Regions from separate parts of the Homo sapiens genome. Here region 1 is linked to region 2. Evidence: fine-mapped expression QTL. A gene starts in region 2. The other region holds a variant in brackets. All regions are shown on one strand. Distances are between the middles of the regions. Region 1 overlaps DZIP3 (DAZ interacting zinc finger protein 3). Region 2 holds the start of CIP2A (cellular inhibitor of PP2A).

Region 1 (4,401 bases), 25 kb after region 2:
GTTGACACATTTGTCAAAAATGCATTTTTAAAAATCATATCCAAATATTTGGAATTATTTGTATAATAAATATTCTGGAAGCTATATTGTAGATTTCCATCTTGAAAGTAGTTTTTCTGTATAATTTGTGGTAACTTTCAGCATAAGAAAGATACCATTTCTTAATGGAGTTTTCTGAAGTTAAAGAAAATTATATACTCTTTTCTTTGTGGCAATTAACTAGAGAAGAGAAGGGTAAAGCACCATAGTTGTCTTGAGAAGGCTACATTTGTCTTTCTATGAAAGAATATATGGTTATTTCCATGAAACACATTAATACTATTATGATTAAAAATTCCAACAAACTGAAGATATTCATAAGACTTTATGCACAATTATAACCTTAACCGAGATAATTTACCACAGTATAAGTGAATTCTGGCTAGAAATTGATAGAATAATGCTACCATTTCCCTCTTATCTTTTGGAAATCACTTAGAAACAACAAGACAGAAATCAGTGGCCTTCAGATATGCAAAAAATAGCAACTAGAAGGTAAAAATAGAAGAATAGTACAGTCATCTTTTGGTATCTGTGGGAGGTTAATTCCAGGACACCCCCGGTACAAAAATCCAAGGATGCCCAAGTCTCTTATGTAAAATGACATAGTATTTGCATACAACCTGTACACATTCTCCCGTATGTGTTACACCATCTCTAGATTACATCTAGGTATTACATATCTAATACAATGTAAATGCTATGTAAATAGTTGTTATACTGTATTGTCTTTTCAATTTTTTAAAATTATTGTATTCTTTCTATTTATTTATTTATTTATCAAATATTTTCAATCCATGGTGGGTTGAATCCATGGAGGCAAAACCTGTGGATATGGAGGGCAAACTGTACTTATTTATAATGATAACAAAAGTAAAATACTGAGTAAAATACTTAAGAAATGTACAAGATAAACTAGTATTTCTTTAAGCTTGTTCTAAACCACTTACATGAGAATATCTGACCCCTGTACCAGTTCTAAAGAATCAAAATCTCTGGGGATAGGTCTTTGAATTTGTGTTTTAGTAAGTACCTAAGCACTGATTGTACTCACATTAAATTTAGAAATCAATACTGCATATTAAAACAATAAGTAAAACTTTCTAAAACTCTATTAAAGGTAAGAAATGAGGACCTGAATGGAATAGTACATGTAGGAAGACGCAGTATGTTAAAGCAGTCAATTTTCTATAAATTAAAATCCACAAATATCGCATGATTCCACTAAAATAATGGGATTTTTTTGGTTAGTGTCGCTAAATGCTAAGTCTAAAGTTCACATGGGAAATAAGAGGAAAAATAGCCAAGAAAATTATTTAAGAAAAGTATGAAGGAGTAGGGCTGGGAATTTGCCCACTTAAACATTAAAAGTTGTTATGAAGCTCTAATAACTAAAAGATTGTGTTACTTGTTCTTTATACCTCAGACATATCTAGAAAATAGAAGATAAGTTCCAGAAGTAGGACCAAATATATACAGAACCTTTATGAATGATAAGATGATAAAAATAGATAATACTAAAGGAAAAAGACAAATCAATCCCAGTGGGATATTTTAACATACTTCTCTTATAACTGATATAACATGGACACAGAATTAGTAGACCTACAGCAGACTTGCTCTAATTGAGACACACATGTATAAACACTGCACCCAACAGTGGCAGATTATGCATTCTTTTAAGTGCACACAGAACATTTACAAAAATTGGCCATATGCTAGGTCACAAAGCAAGCCCCATCAGATTTCAGAGTATCAAAATATACAGAGTATGTTCTCTAACTACTCTTCAGTTAATCT[A/G]GAAATCAATAAAAGAGATAATCTAGAAAACCGTATGTTCATAAGGTAAGATATATACCTCTAATCTAGGTAACCAATTGGCCAAAGAAGAAATCACAATAGAAGTTAGATACATTTTTGAACTGAATAAAAATATATATCAAATCTTGTGTTATTAGATAAAGCTGTGCTTCAAGGAGAATTTATAGCTTGAGATGTAAATATTAGAAAAAGAAGCAAGGTTGAATATCAGTTATCTAAGCATGACATTCAAGAAGTTAATGGAAGAACAGCAAATTAAAAGCACTTGAAAAGGAAGTAATAAGGATAGTTAAAACTAATGAAATCTATTTAAAACATAAAATAGAAAGGATCAATAAATCCAAAACTTGCTTTTTTGGAAAGACCAATCAAATTGACAAATGCGTAATAAGTATGTCCAAAACCGAAAGCAAAAATATCCAAAATCATGAATGAACATGAAAACATAAATACAAATACTGTAGTCATTGAAGATAATAGAGATAATTCTGCTACTTGGAGTAGCTACCTGGTTTGTCTCATAGCAACCTGCCTCTGTGAAGAACTTGAAAAACTGGACACATTTTTTTCTAGTAATTCTTATTTTTGCTTTTCTAGTAAATTATTTAATTCAACCTGGGATAGAAATGATTCCAACCTTTACTTAGTTCTTTTGAGGAAGGGTCAGTTTCTCTACCTTTTGTAGCAGATTCTGTCATTGCCCCCCCATACCAATTGGACCCTACCTATATTTTCAGTATGCTCTGGACAATTCTAGTTTTCCATGTCTATATCTCTATGCCTCAGGGCCTTTTTTTCTAGAACAGGAGAAAGCTACTTCTCATGGCAGCTCAGAAGACCCAAGGAATTAATATTCCCCCATCACCCCAGAAAGCACTCAATCAGTAGGTCTTGGGAGTTATTATATGAATATCCCAGTTGCCTCTTCCCTTGAGTTGGTTAATACTGAGGTTTGTATTTTTGAGTTTTCCAAAATTTCCCCGTTGTGATAACCGCAGTGGCCCACCATGGGTAACTAGCATAATAACACATCCTTTAATTAAAACCTACTTTTCCTTCACTTTATTACTTCTCCACTTTCCTACCATTGTCTCTGTACCTCCCAAATAAACTATTTCCATTGAAATCCTTTAATTATGGTCTGCTTCCATTGGAACAAAAACAGGGCCTCAATGAAAAGAATGGGCTGTTTACCAGGGCTGCTCCTCCTTATAGACCATGCACTCCAATTTTCCCCCAAGCCTTGCAAATCTGCTGAAGGCTGTGCCACAACTGAATATGGCAATTACTTTAATGAGAAAAGTAGCTCCAAAAGTCAGTCAAAAGTCAGCTCTCCAGAGATTGCCTTTCAGAGGTTTTTATTTTCATTGTGTTAGTAGTTTTCCATTGCTTTCAGATAATTAGTTTTTATATCTTGTCCCGTTGTTTTAGTTATTCTCATTGGGAGACTGATTTGAAACCACCTAGGCTGTTTGACAGAGGTGGAACTTCAGTATTATGTTTTGTATTTCTATTCAAATTCAAGAGATATTGTTTGAGCTTGGAATGTAGGTGAAGTTCTTGGCTAGAAATGTAAATTTGGAAACTGTCAGTATGTAGACACTATTTAAAATTATGATACTGGGTTACTTTACCTAGAGAACATGTATTGATAGAGAAGAGGCTCATTAAATTGATTGCTAGGGAGACTGAAATAAAGTATCTAGTCAGCTAGGAAAAAAACAGGAAAATGTTATATATGGAAACCAAGTTATGGAAGTGTAGATTAAATTTTCCATGCAGATTATACATTATTAAACAGATTATGTAATATAAACCAAGCCGTTGTGGGTAGAAAACATTGGGGAATGGACACAAAGACATAGTCCTACCTTTCATTTCAACCATGTAAATAAACTATAGTACATAATAAAGCATGCATTAGCTCAGTTGCAATCAGATTGCAGCATAAAATGGTTTACCCTTGTATTGGTATTAATGCCAGCATTCCTGTTTACCACAGGTTCAGGGCTGGAATATTTTAGCTATGTCACACAATAGAAGGTATGAGAGTGAACTGGGATTACCATTTTCCTCTGAAGTAGGTGTGGATGTTGCCAACCCTTTGGCAGGTATAGGAATGCCTTTTTAAAAAATGTTTTAAAGAGGCTGGGCGCAGTGGCTCACGCCTGTAATCCCAGCACTTTAGGAGGCCAAGGCAGGCGGATCACGAGGTCAGGAGACCAAGACCATCCTAGCTAAAATGGTGAAACCCCATCTCTACTAAAAATACAAAAAATTAGCCAGGTGTGGTGGTGGGTGTCTGTAGTCCCAGATACTCAGGAGGCTGAGGCAGGAGAATGGTGTGAACACGGGAGGCGGAGCTTGCAGTGAGCTGAGATTGCGCCAGTGAACTCCAGCCAGGGCGACAGAGCGAGACTCCATCTCAAAAATAAATAAATAAATAAATAAATAAATAAATAAATAAATAAAATAAAATTTAAAATTGTTTTAAGGAAATAGTTACAAACGACATTCATCGGACTACTTAAAAGCAAACAT
Region 2 (4,401 bases):
TGTATGTCTACAACAGCTTTATTCTTAATTCCACCCAGAAATGTAAACAACCCAAATGCCTATCAACAGGAAAGTGTATGTAAACTGTGGTACACTTATACAATAGAATTCTACACATCAATAATAAAAAAAATGAAGTAGCGGTACATGTGCAACATGAATTTCACAGATTTTATTGAGTGGAAAAGGCCAGACACAAGAGTACATATTGTATGAGTCTACTTACCCAAACCTTATGTGAAGAGGCAATGAAGAAACCCTATGGGGCTAGAAATGTTCTGTATCATGATACAGGTGGTAGCTACTCTACCTATATGTTAGCTACCAATATGGTAGCTATGGTACCTATATATTAAAAACTATCAAACTCTTCACTTAAGATTAATGCACTTTATGCTCTGTATGTATTTTATCTCTTAATTACAAAAAGTCCTTTTTAGTAGTAACCTGAAGCCAGTGCTCTTCATACCTTTGCAACAACGGTAGAAGAGTTTTATGTAAACCCCTTGAAAGTTTAGGAATACAGTAAAGACCCCATCCCATATTTTGTTTAAGTCTCTCTTTTTTTTTGTTTTGTTTTTGAGACGGAGTCTCACTCTGTCACCCATGTTGGAGTGCAGTGGAGCGATCTCTACTTATGCAACCTCAGCCTCCCGAGTTCAAGCGATTCTCCAGCCTCAGCCTCCCGAGTAGCTGGGACAACAGAGAGACGCCACGCCCAGGTAATTTTTGTATTTTTAGTAGAGACGGGGTTTCGCATGTTGGTCAGGCTGGTCTCAAACTCCCGACCTCAGGTGATCCGCTCGCCTCGGCCTCCCAAAGTGCTGGGATTACAGGTGTAAGCCCCTGTGCCTTAAATCTCTTTCAGTGCACAACCTTCCTGTTTATTCAAAGAAAGGTAATGCTTCAGAATAGCATACAAAATGCTTAACTCCCGATTTTTAAATTAAACGGACTGCCCTGCTTATTCTGCGGCTTCTGGAGCCTATGCTAATTCAGAAGCAAAGCCTTAAGCATTTAACAGCTAACACCTTAATTATTAGGTTTGCAGGCACTTCTTAAAATAAAGAATGAAAAAGAGAAAACAAATGTACTTAGGAGATGGGCACTTGAAGTAGGGAAAAGAGGAGCACCAGTGAAGCTCAAGATAAGACAGACACATTTAATACAACAGCAGCTTCACTAACAGCTGCTGTTGCTCTACTACTGGAAATCATTTTTTTCCTGTAATATTTTACAAATTTTTGGCACATTAGTCTTTTATCATAGGGTTAATATAATACAATATATTTTAAAATTATGTTCAATTCTACCTTAACAGAGGAAAGCTGTGACACAGAGAGTTAAAATAAGCCTTAATTGAGCTTTAAAAAAATTAAACTGAGGTCAATGTTAGTTTGAATTCCGTAAATGCAAAACAAATGAAAGCAGAAGATTAAGATCCTAAAACAAACGGAATCGTCTGGACACATATCACTAGAATAGAAAAAAAGGCAATTCAGCATTCTAAGATTAAAAAACTGTAAGCAATGTATTTTGGTAAAGAAAAAGGATTACGCTTACTAGGAAGGGGAAGTGCTTCTTAATGTTGAAATAATGTTTTTCAAGTTTGAGTTCAACCCGAGTTCAAGTAAGAGCAGTAAGCAACAAATTCAATTATAGATTACCGAAGGGCAAAACCAAGTTTTAATCATGACTTTCCGTCACTGAGAATAGTTGTGTATTGAGGGCTTGGTTTCGTAGAAAAACCAAAACTAGAAGCAAAGGAAAAGATAAAGTTCCGAGCTTTTTCCGTTACCTACTCGAAACAACCTGAACTTCCCAACCTTTTGCCCCACTCCCGCTTTTCCTAGAGCCTTCAGTGAGCGCTCTTGCCTCTCGCTGCGGCCAGCGGAACCCCGACACTCACTAGCCTTTACCAGTACGAAAAGACAACAGAGGGATCGAAGGACTGTCCTTTCTTTCCCAGGCTGGGGCCGCCACTCCTCGGCCTCACTGTGAAATAAGAATTGCTAGGGGAAGCCCCATCTGTCCTCTACCCCAGAGCCTCTCACCTCCAAGTGCCGCAAAAGCTGAGTGGCGTTCGCCTCTGACTTCACGGCTTTGTACTGACTGACAGTCAGGAGCAAGGACTTCAAGCAGGCAGTGGAGTCCATTGCACCGGCCGCGGCCCGGCTTAGGGACCACCACCGCCCAGCGTGCGCCGGCCTTTAGCTTTCGCCGCGCTTTTTTTGATTTTCGGCCCCACCCCCTCGCTCTCAGAAGCTTCCGGATCCGGTCGGGCTCCGGAAGTCCCTAGGCACCCTAGGGGACCGTTCTCGGTGACGGCCGGGGTGGGCCAGGGGTCGAGGTGATTTGTGGGTCCAGGACGGGGGTTGGGAGCTGCCCCCGCTAACCCACCCTCGTCTGAGAGGCCGCGAGGTTTCGGCCTGAGATCCCGTGAAGGCGAGAAATCTCGCGATTTCTCGGGAGAGGAATCGGTTAGGAGAAGGGGGATTCCTCACTCAGCTGTGCGCTCTGATTTCGTGCGCTTCCTCGTCCTTCATGTTGGATGGCCAGTTTTTCGTTTGTGCGTCATCCTCTACCTGAGAAATGGTCGCTTGCCCCTAGTCTAGACACGGTGAGGAGCTCTGAGGAGAAGAATCTTGGGCCCTAGATTTTGAGGCGGCCTGGGAGGGGCCTCGTTTTTAAATCTCTCCTACACCCGCCCCTTCTGCCCGGGGATGGTAGTTTCTCAGAGTCAACCTATTGGCATTATGTGGCAAATTAGTCATGCCCTGACCAAAGTATTTGTCACATTTATTCGAGAAGACTACCTCCTGCTGACCCTGGGCCAGGTATTGCTCCGGAGGGTGTTACTCGTTAGCGTCAGTTTTTGTAAGTGAAGGTGTCTGTTTCTCTCTGGCATGATTGATTGTTTTATAATTCTCGATGTCTACGAAAATGGCACTATTATTTGCGTTTTTTAAATCGGAGATAGCTTAATATTATTGCATGTGTATGTAATGAAGCGAGTCAGTTACTGGTTTTGGAGCTTTTTGCTTAATATTTCCTAACGTCGAATAAAGCTTTAAAAACCAGGATGTAGAAATTGTAAGAATAGGGTACATTTCCATTTAATTAAATCGTTTATCAGAAATCATGTTTTTTCACTTCAAAAGAATTTTTTTGAATTACTAGATTTTTGAAGACAGGTTTGGTGTTTTGGTTTTGTTTTTTATAAAAGTTTAAATCTGAAAGATAAAAATGATTTAACCAGTTGGGACATTCATGTAAAAATCTTTGGGTAGCTTGTGTGTTCATTTATGCTTTCATTCATTCCGTAAACAATTATAGAGCGTGTAACATGGGTTAGAAACTGCCAGTCAGGGAACAGAGATGAAGTAGTATCCCCTGCTGCGAGGGAACTGTCTAGTAAGGGAAACATACAAAATAGTACTTTTGAAATTCACCACATAAATGAGAGGCACCATGCAGTAACATGCAGCAGTGGTAAAGAGTAGAGAGCCAGGTTGCTTACAGATTCTAGCTCCACCTTTGACGATGTGACTCTAGGCAAGTTCTCACTGCTGCAGAATCTTCATTAGGTAAAATCTGGCCAAGGGAGATACCTGGTTCATAGGACTGTTCATTCAATAAGTAGTTCATTGAGAATCTACAATGTGCTAAGCACTTTTCTAGACACAATAGACTCAGTGAAAAAAACAAAAATACTACTGGCATGCAACTTACATTTTGGTAGGGAACCAAATAATAAACACAATAAATAAGTAAGGAAAATGATATAAAGAGAAAAATAGACGTTATTACTCTAGAATAATGTTGGTAATTGATAAGGGAAATGGGAAGGTGACCTCATTAAGAAAGCAACATTTGGGGAAATGCTTCAAGGAGTTGAGAAAGGGAGCCATATTCTATGGGAAAAGGTTTTTAGATAGAGGAAATGGCAAAGAAAGACCCTAAAGTGGGATACTGTATGCCAGAAACAAGGATGCCATGTGGCTAGTGTAGAAAGAACGAGGAGGAGAGGAGTAGAGATGAGGTCCTATACGGTCTTGGAGATGGTTAAAAAATGAATTAATGTAAAGTGTCAGCTGTCATCTGGCATAATTAAGTTCTCAGTGTTACAGTCAGTGCCTCATTGGCAAATGAAGTGATCAGAGTTTGATAGTGTTGGACTTTTCATCTGTGATGATGTGTCAGCATCGTCCCCATTCAGAGGCCCAGGGTAATGCGCAAAGCTGCGTGCTATCAGTGCCATCTTTGTTGGATTTTGACTTAAGCAGTCATACAAATTTTGTATTCTCTTCTGTAATTAATATCAAATGTCTTTCTCAAAAAATCTTCACCAAAATTGATGTTGTAAGTTTAGTAAGAGGGATCGTTTCTAGCTGTGATAAG

The links. PIP is the estimated chance that this variant, and not a neighbour inherited with it, causes the effect.
Region 1: its variant is the best candidate, but not a certain one, in a credible set for the expression of CIP2A in whole blood (INTERVAL, PIP 0.82).

The regions. Positions count from the first base shown.
Region 1 is chr3:108,611,977-108,616,377 of GRCh38, forward strand. The region is part of intron 4 of DZIP3 (DAZ interacting zinc finger protein 3); the gene reads left to right. Among named protein-coding and RNA genes, the nearest start is that of DZIP3, 24 kb to the left of the region's middle. The variant A/G (reference allele first, on the strand shown) is at 1,840.
Region 2 is chr3:108,587,220-108,591,620 of GRCh38, forward strand. CIP2A (cellular inhibitor of PP2A) reads right to left here and starts at 2,219. Exons shown (of 21, transcript NM_020890.3): 1 at 2,055-2,219. The coding sequence starts at 2,156. DZIP3 (DAZ interacting zinc finger protein 3) reads left to right here and starts at 2,503. Exons shown (of 33, transcript NM_014648.4): 1 at 2,503-2,620. RefSeq lists an enhancer at 2,418-2,697.